Linked DNA regions of Homo sapiens. The protein of the gene in region 1 purifies or fractionates together with the protein of each later gene. This does not show direct contact. Each region holds a gene or a part of one and is shown on either strand. Other genes may lie near its edges.

Region 1 (3,751 bases):
TCATTTCCTTCGGGATCAATTCCTCCCCTGCTGGGATTGGAAGCTTCCTGGGCAGCCTCTTATTTTTCCCTAATCATGTTTTCTTCCGTGGGTCTGATCCTTTCCCACCCGTGCTCCTTCTTTTCTGCCTTGCAGTCTGCTTTAGATGGTGCCTGTTTCCTTTTTAGTTTCTGACCATCCTCTGGGAAACTAAAGTTCTTCAGGAGGCTGAACTTCTCCTTCCTTGGAGCATCAGAACCAGGTAATGAGAACACCTTTCCAACTTCAAGACCGAGTTCACCTGGTCTGTTGATTTGCTGCTCAGCACTGCCTACCCAGTAGATGCCTGCTGGCTTCAGGGGAAGCTCTCTTCTCTCCCCTTTCTTCTTCCCACTGGGAGGGCCGAGCTGCTGGTCAGGCTTCCCACAAGAGTAGTTTGGCTCTGCCCTGGGACTATGGTCTTCCTGCTTACGAAAACAGTCGGAGGGGAACTTCATCTGTGGGTTCCTATGTCTGCTTTCCCACAGAGTCTGAAACTGCCTTCTTACCCCTTTTGATATAGTTGGTCCCCGAGGTTCTTAATACTTTGGCACAATATCTATGAAGGAATCCCTTTAAACAAGAGAAAATGCTACCCTGAGTGAGGGGTGGGTCTTCAGGCTTGGGATCTCAGACTTGGCTACCTGAGATCCAAGAGATCCAGAATTCTCAGCCTTTGGGGCTTCACATTGAGTTATTTGAAAAATGGGTAACATATTGGCCATTTTTGGTTTTTAAAAGGTAGAAAAACAAAAAACCTAACCAAACAACAACAACAACAAAAACACAAAAAATGCAGAACAGGGATCGGGGAAAAGGAATTTGCTCTCATGTTCCTGACTGCACGGGTGAGAGTTGGCATCTAACAGAAACAGCTACTCCCAGGAGGAGCCCCCGGACCAGGCTGGGACGCAGTCTGGGCATGGCCAATGGTGCAGACCCCTGCCTTCACCCCTGAACACACTCCTTGGCTTGCTTGCTTTTCATAGCATCCTACGGGTCTTATATACTACACTGAGCATGATACTCTCCGAAACTGGGTTGGAGAAGGGAACAAATCCTTAACTATCTAGCCATGTGTCTCCCGTATGTCTCTCTGGGTCTATACATAGACTCATCTCATCATTACTAGGTTTTGAGTTAATATTATTAGCTCCATTTTACAGATGAGAAAACCAAGTCTTAGAGAGCTTGGCAGAGGTCACATAACTTATTAGAAACTGAGCTGGGAATTTGAGATGGTTCTGTCTTTCTACTACACATGCGGTTTTGCCCTTCCATGTGGCATTTCTCCACGTCATCTTTCTCTTTAGCCCTGGCTGGCCTTAGTGGTTCAAGGTGATCCACTGCCTTGCATTATCACCAGCTCACACCCCGCTCTGGATTGGCGTGAAGATTTTCACTTGAGTGTGTCACTGAATGATGCCATTGGAAGCTTCTGCTGATAAGCGTGGGACCATCTGCTTGGCACATCTCAAATATTTTCAGCAGTGGGAGAGCAGCTCTGATTCCTTCAGAGATGAGAGGCTGCAGCCATCCTTCGAGATGTTGGGACCGGAGACCCTGCAGGCTGGCTGGGCATTGATGCCCCAGATGTGAAGGGGCAGCCAACCTGTTGGCCACGTCTGACCCTTCCTGAGCAAATGACACCAGTGAGTCTGCGTCCCAGTTTTTCATTGCTTAGCTGTCCTTGACAACCAGAGTAAGATTTTCTCTCTTTAAAAAGCTATTTCTTGGATAACTCTTTTCTGTGCTGGTTTTTCTTTCTTTTATTTTTTTCGGTGTGTTAGATGTTTGCCGTTGGTGTGTGTTGGCAAAAACTTCTCTTTCCTCCTGCCTTTGTTTTGGAAAATTTACTTCTTTGCTGAGTTAACTGTTCCCAGACATTGTTTTTCAACTTCAGGGTTGAAACTTCGCAGTAGCGTTTTCTTTTTTAACTCGTTGCAGGGGAAAGAATCTTAGGATCAATTCACAGTTTGAATGGTGGACTTGGAGGTTTTCAAGGCTGCTTAATGAAAGCTTATGAATGATAAAGAAGTTGAGGTTTGAAAGAGTTGTTACTGAATTTGATTCCTCTGGAGAAATCACTTGGCTATCAGCTCTTTGGCATCACAGGGGCAAGCTGTATTGATTTTTCTTCATTTTTCCTTAGTGGGCACTGGCATCAGTATTAGCTTCTGTTGCTTATGAAGCCGTATGCATTCCTTTGGTGACAAGATGTCTGTTAAAAGGAATCTCCTGCCCAGTCTTGATCTTTGGTATGAGCGTCTTAGCAACACTTCCCAGCCAGGATACTTAGGAGTAATTTGGTGAGAGAATGTATAGTGTGTTGTTAGATTGCTATGGGTGCAGCAGTAAAAAGGTGGTAAGAAGCTGGCCTCTAGCAGAGTGCCACGGCCTCGGCACTACTGGCATTTTGGGCTGGGTAATTCTTTGCCGTGTGGGCTGTCTTGTATATTATAGGATGTTTAGCAGCATCTCTGGCCTCTACCAACTAGATACCAGTAGCACACTCCTCTCCATTGTGACAACCAAAAATATCTTCAGGCATGCCAAACATCCCTTAGGGGACAAAATCACCTTCCCCCCTTTTAGACCAGGGCTCTAAATTGATCCTGTGGTATGTTTGGAAAGGGAGCAAGAAGTCTCTGCTTCTGCGTACAGATGGCCCTAGTGTGGGGAAGACGGGAATGATGCATTTAATACCAGGACAGATGGTCCTGCCCTGTACATTCCCATCGGAGCCCTTGCCTGCCATGGAAATTCCATCTCACAAATGGGTTTCTGTTTGTCCAGGTGACTGCACACACACACAGGGAAGAATTTGCCCTTTTCTCTGGATCTGCACACCTAGAAATCCAGCCTAGGGTCAGGCTGTCTTTTAAGTTGCCTGGGAACAACAGGCGCTTTCAGATGGCCCACTCCCCCAGCCTGAGTTTTATTGGCTTTTCTCTCTTTCCTTTTTTCTCCCTGCCTTTCTCCCCAGCCCCCTCTTTCTTTCTTCTAAGAGTGATGTCCTAGGCTGGGTATCTGGGGCCATGGAAGGACTGTGCTCAACTGAATGGGAATGTGGAAGGGGTTGTTTGCTTCTGAGGTCTCTAGAGAACACTTGAGCAGCATAAATGTATGGCATTTAGAACTCTCTGCTGACTCTGAGTCTCCTTGTTTTTTCTATCAGCTCCACCACCCATCTGTTCCTCTCACTTTCATTGAGAGGTAATTGCAGCCAGCAATCTCAGGTGGACCTGGCAGGACACAGGCTCTGCAAAGCCCACATCCTTACACATCAATGGAAACCACCATGCTTGTTTTCCCTGCTTGTTGATTCATTATCTCAGTTTGGCATTTCCATGAGACTCATATTGGCAAAGTGCTGTTCAATCTCTAGCATTTCTTATACCCCAGCCTTTCAAACTACATTAAAATGCCAGCATGTGAAGCAGTTGAGACCCAGTGGGGTTAATCTGCTTGATGGAGGACTTGCCTCTCATGGTCAGTTTGACTGAAAGTGCAGCTCCCAGGCCAAGCAGCCGTAGGCACAAGCAGAATAGGCTGTGGCCTCTGCACTGTACTTTGATCAATGTCAAAACCCCTCTTCTCAAAAGTCTCTTCTGCATTCAGATGCGATACTGCCCACAATTCTTTGAGTTTTGCAGGAAGGTGGTGGGTGTTAAGTCCTACTTTCCACCATGGTCACCCTGGCTTATGGTGTCTTGTGTGAGGTGCTGGAGCC
Region 2 (3,651 bases), on another chromosome or scaffold:
ATTATACAGACATCTGTAGAATGAATAGTAGCTTCCCTTAATCCTGTCTTCCCAAGACAATATCTTAACGGTCATGTGTTTTGGAATGCGTTAACCTCTGTGTGCTAGCTTTCTATCTGTACAGTGGCAATACGGAGGCAACCGCAGGGGTGTGAAGGCATGTGGAATGCACACATGCGTAGGGCTGTGCTTCACATGGACAGTGCTCGGTGCACGCTTGCTGCTGTTGCAGCAGGAGGTCTTGGGAAAGGAGAATTTGGAGAATTTGCCATCGGTGTATGGATGCTGTTTATCATTACTGTGTGGGTGCCTCCTTCTCCACATTCTCTCCAGCGCTGGGAATTCTCATTCTTTGTGGTACTTGCTCCTCTGGCGGGTGCACAGTTGTGAGCTCCGTGCTTCCAGTCATCCTACCCAGTGTTGGATGTGGGCTGGGCTCGAGGTCTGGGGTCCTCCAGGACTGGAGCCCAGGAGAGCTGTCAGGGAGGGTGAGAGCACAGAGTGGGGTTGAAGCCCCCCGGTGTGCCACCATCGAGAGAGAGAGTACATCCAGCGAGCAGGACAGGGCCCGAGGCCGGCTGGGGACCTGGGCCTGCTTCCACGGCCTCATCACCTTTACCATGCTCCATCTGCTCCATCTACTTGAGGGCCCAAAGTCACCGGCACTCTGGCCTGTGTGCCCGCCTCCTGGGCCAGCAAGCTCCTAATCAGTCTACAATGCCCCTTTCAGCTCACATGAATCCTCTCCCACCAGCGAGGCCCCCATGCTCTGACGACAACACAGGGTCACAGTGATACAGCAGCTGTAGCAAACCAAGCATTCAGGAGGCAGGTGAGAGCAGAGGGATCCGTGTGCATGAGCCAGAGACAGCTTATTCTTTTTTTTTTTTTTTTCACACAGAGTCTCACTCTGTCGCCCAAGCTGGAGTGCAGTGGCGCGATCTCGGCCCACTGCAAGCTCTGCCTCTCAGGTTCACGCCATTCTCCTGCCTCAGCCTCTCGAGTAGCTGGGACTGCAGGCGCCCGCCACCACACTGGGCTAATTTTTGTATTTTTAGTAGAGATGGGGTTTCACCATGTTGGCCAGGATGGTCTCAATCTCTTGACCTCCTGATCCGCCCACCTTGGCCTCCCAAAGTGCTGTGATTACAGGCGTGAGCCACTGTGCCCAGCCGACAGTTTATTCTTAACCATGTTGTTTGTGGTCTGTAGTTCCCAGTCATCCTAGGGCCAATCCACATCTCACAAGTGGGAAGACTGGGGCTTGGAGAGAGGAAGTGATTTGCCCAAGACCATACAGCAAAGAGCGGCAGTGCGGGGTGCCCAGCCGGGCATGCGGGCTCAGCTCTCTCAGACCTGCAGGATGTGCAGTGAGGACCGACAGCCCCTTAAGCTCTGAAGGCACAGGGGCTGCTGGCCAGGTTAGCAGGGGCCACCAGACAGGACGCTCCTGCTGCCTCCCCCCAGGTCCCTGCAGAGGCCTGGCCCCAGGAGTGAAGAGAGGGTGCAGGTGACCCCCTCTGCCCAACCCCAGCTCAGCCAGCAGCTCCGTTGCTCCCCGCCAGCTCCCTCCAGTCTGCAGCCTGGCTTCTGGCTGCCTTTGTCCTCCTGGGCTCAGCTGCCCAGAAAGTGTGTGTCCAGCTGGCAGGCCTGCCACACAGTCCCCGTCTTCCCAAGCACCCCAGGGAGAGGGAGAAGTAGGGCCAGGCCCAGGGTGGCCACCGCAGGGCCATGCTCTCTGCCAATGTGGAGGGGCCCCAAGCTGATGGATAATCCCAGTGCCATCCCTGTGCCGGCTGTGTTGGGCCTGGGGACAGAGCCATGGGCTGATGACACCCCGGCCCAGGAGCCGCTTGATGACTCGGACCCTCCACGTGCTGTGGGTCAAGGCCAGAGTGGGGATGACATGCTCAGCTGGGGGCAGCAGTTTGCCGGGCACAGAGGACGAGGGAGGACAGAGGACACAGCCCAACCGGGCAGGGAGGAGCCTGCTGGAGAGCAGGGGCCTGGGAGGCTGGTGCTCAGGGTGATGGTTGAGAGAGATGGCAAGGCGAGGGCAGGGCTGCGAGGATGCAGCTAGTTCTACCCTCAATCTCTCATGCCGGCCCCTTCACCTCTGCACCAGGACCTGGACCCAGCCATGCCCTGTGGACTCAGCCATCATTCGGAGAGCAGCTCCCAGAAACCAGCTAAGGCCAGCGCTCACCCACACTGCCCCGTAGAGAGGGCCGGGACCCTGTCCCACCAGGGTATGGCACAGCCAGCCCATCTCAGTCCCATCCTGGTGGGCCCAGAGAGGATTTGATGAGAAAATATGGGTTCTGTACAGAACAAGGGACGCAGGACACGCAGGTGTGGAGCCGAGGGAGGGGCCGACTCCCACATCATGGGAGGAAAGCAAGGCTGGCTCTCCCAGCAGCTCTCACTGGGCTGGGCTGGGTTTTCCCTCCGTTTTCAGGAAAGAAGCTTTTGAAAAAAACGGCATCATTAGCTTAAAGGGCTTTGCCCTCAGCCAACTAGGGCATGAAGCCAGATGGAGGCCAGGCCCCAAGGAGGGGTGTGGTGGAGGCCACTGGGGCACAGGGCCCAGGCAGCCATGTGCCTCCTACGTGGGCCTTCCTGCCTGCAGGGGTCTCTGAGGCTTCATGCTAGGGGCTAGGAGGAAGGCCGGGCTGGGGTCTGGCCTGAGCCTCTGCCCCCGGCCTTTGGAGGGGAGCCTGGTCCTGGGGCAGGGACCGACCTGGACTCAGCCAGACTGGGCTCCCACGTGGCCACCTGCTGCTGTGAGGCCTGGCGCCTCAGTTTCCTCACTCGCTGACCTGGCTGTTGAGCCCTCCCTCCCAGGCTGCTGTGAGGATCAAATGAGGCAGTCGCAGCCGGCCGGCTGCCCCCCACCTCGCTCGCTGCTAGTGCCTAACCCATGGGACGTTCCCCCACCCTGCCTGGCCCTCATGGAGGGGTGCCAGCACTGCCCAGGGGAGGTGCAGGACCCTCCTGTGCTGCTCCCACGCCCGCCACGCCTGTGGCTGACGCCAAGGCCCCGTGGCCCGAGGACGGAGGGTGTCCTGGGGCTGCTGACAGTACAGAGAAGAGGAGGTATGCATTCTGGCCTTTCTGACCTCCACCCGGTGCCTGCCCCAACCACGCTGCTGCAGGCTTGGGAGCCAGGGCTTTGCGGGGCCTCAGGGAAGGAAGAAGCCAGTTCCCGGGCCAGGAACAGGAAGGCAGGGGGAGCGCAGCAGAGGCCAGGATGACAGTGCTTCCTGCTGCGGGAAGGGAAGGACAGCAGAGACAGACAACAGCCAGGCAGGAAGGATGCGCCTTCTTCAGGGCTGCAGGTGGGGGCTGGGCAGTCACAGAGCCTCTGGACGTGGCAGGCTGCAGGCCTGAATCTGCCCAGGGAGCCCATCCTATAAAACAGGAAGCATCTTTTCCAGTGGAACAACAGGGTCTGACAAGAGTCTCTGAGGTTTCAGAGGTCTGTTGAGCCATCCATCCATCTACTTTCCATCCATCCAACCATCTAACCATCCACCCATCCATGCTTCACCCATATGCCCACCTTTCCACCATCCATTCATCCTTCCATCCAGCCATTCGTTCATCCTTCCATCTGCCCGTCCATCCATCCTTCTGTTCAATCTACCCATC

Evidence for each region.
Region 2: the proteins of MAS1 (region 1) and FLT4 purify together in Homo sapiens (affinity purification with mass spectrometry; 2 studies listed by BioGRID and IntAct, with this or other methods). This does not show direct contact.

The regions. Positions count from the first base shown.
Region 1 is NC_000006.12:159,889,464-159,893,214, forward strand, and holds the start of MAS1 (proto-oncogene Mas), read left to right. Parts: upstream 1-1,524; 5' UTR 1,525-1,670; exon of another isoform or gene 1,671-1,720; intron 1,721-3,751. UniProt on the Homo sapiens protein: Receptor for angiotensin 1-7. Acts specifically as a functional antagonist of AGTR1 (angiotensin-2 type 1 receptor), although it up-regulates AGTR1 receptor levels.
Region 2 is NC_000005.10:180,639,450-180,643,100, reverse strand, and holds part of FLT4 (vascular endothelial growth factor receptor 3 isoform 1 precursor), read left to right. Parts: intron 1-3,651. UniProt on the Homo sapiens protein: Tyrosine-protein kinase that acts as a cell-surface receptor for VEGFC and VEGFD, and plays an essential role in adult lymphangiogenesis and in the development of the vascular network and the cardiovascular system during embryonic development.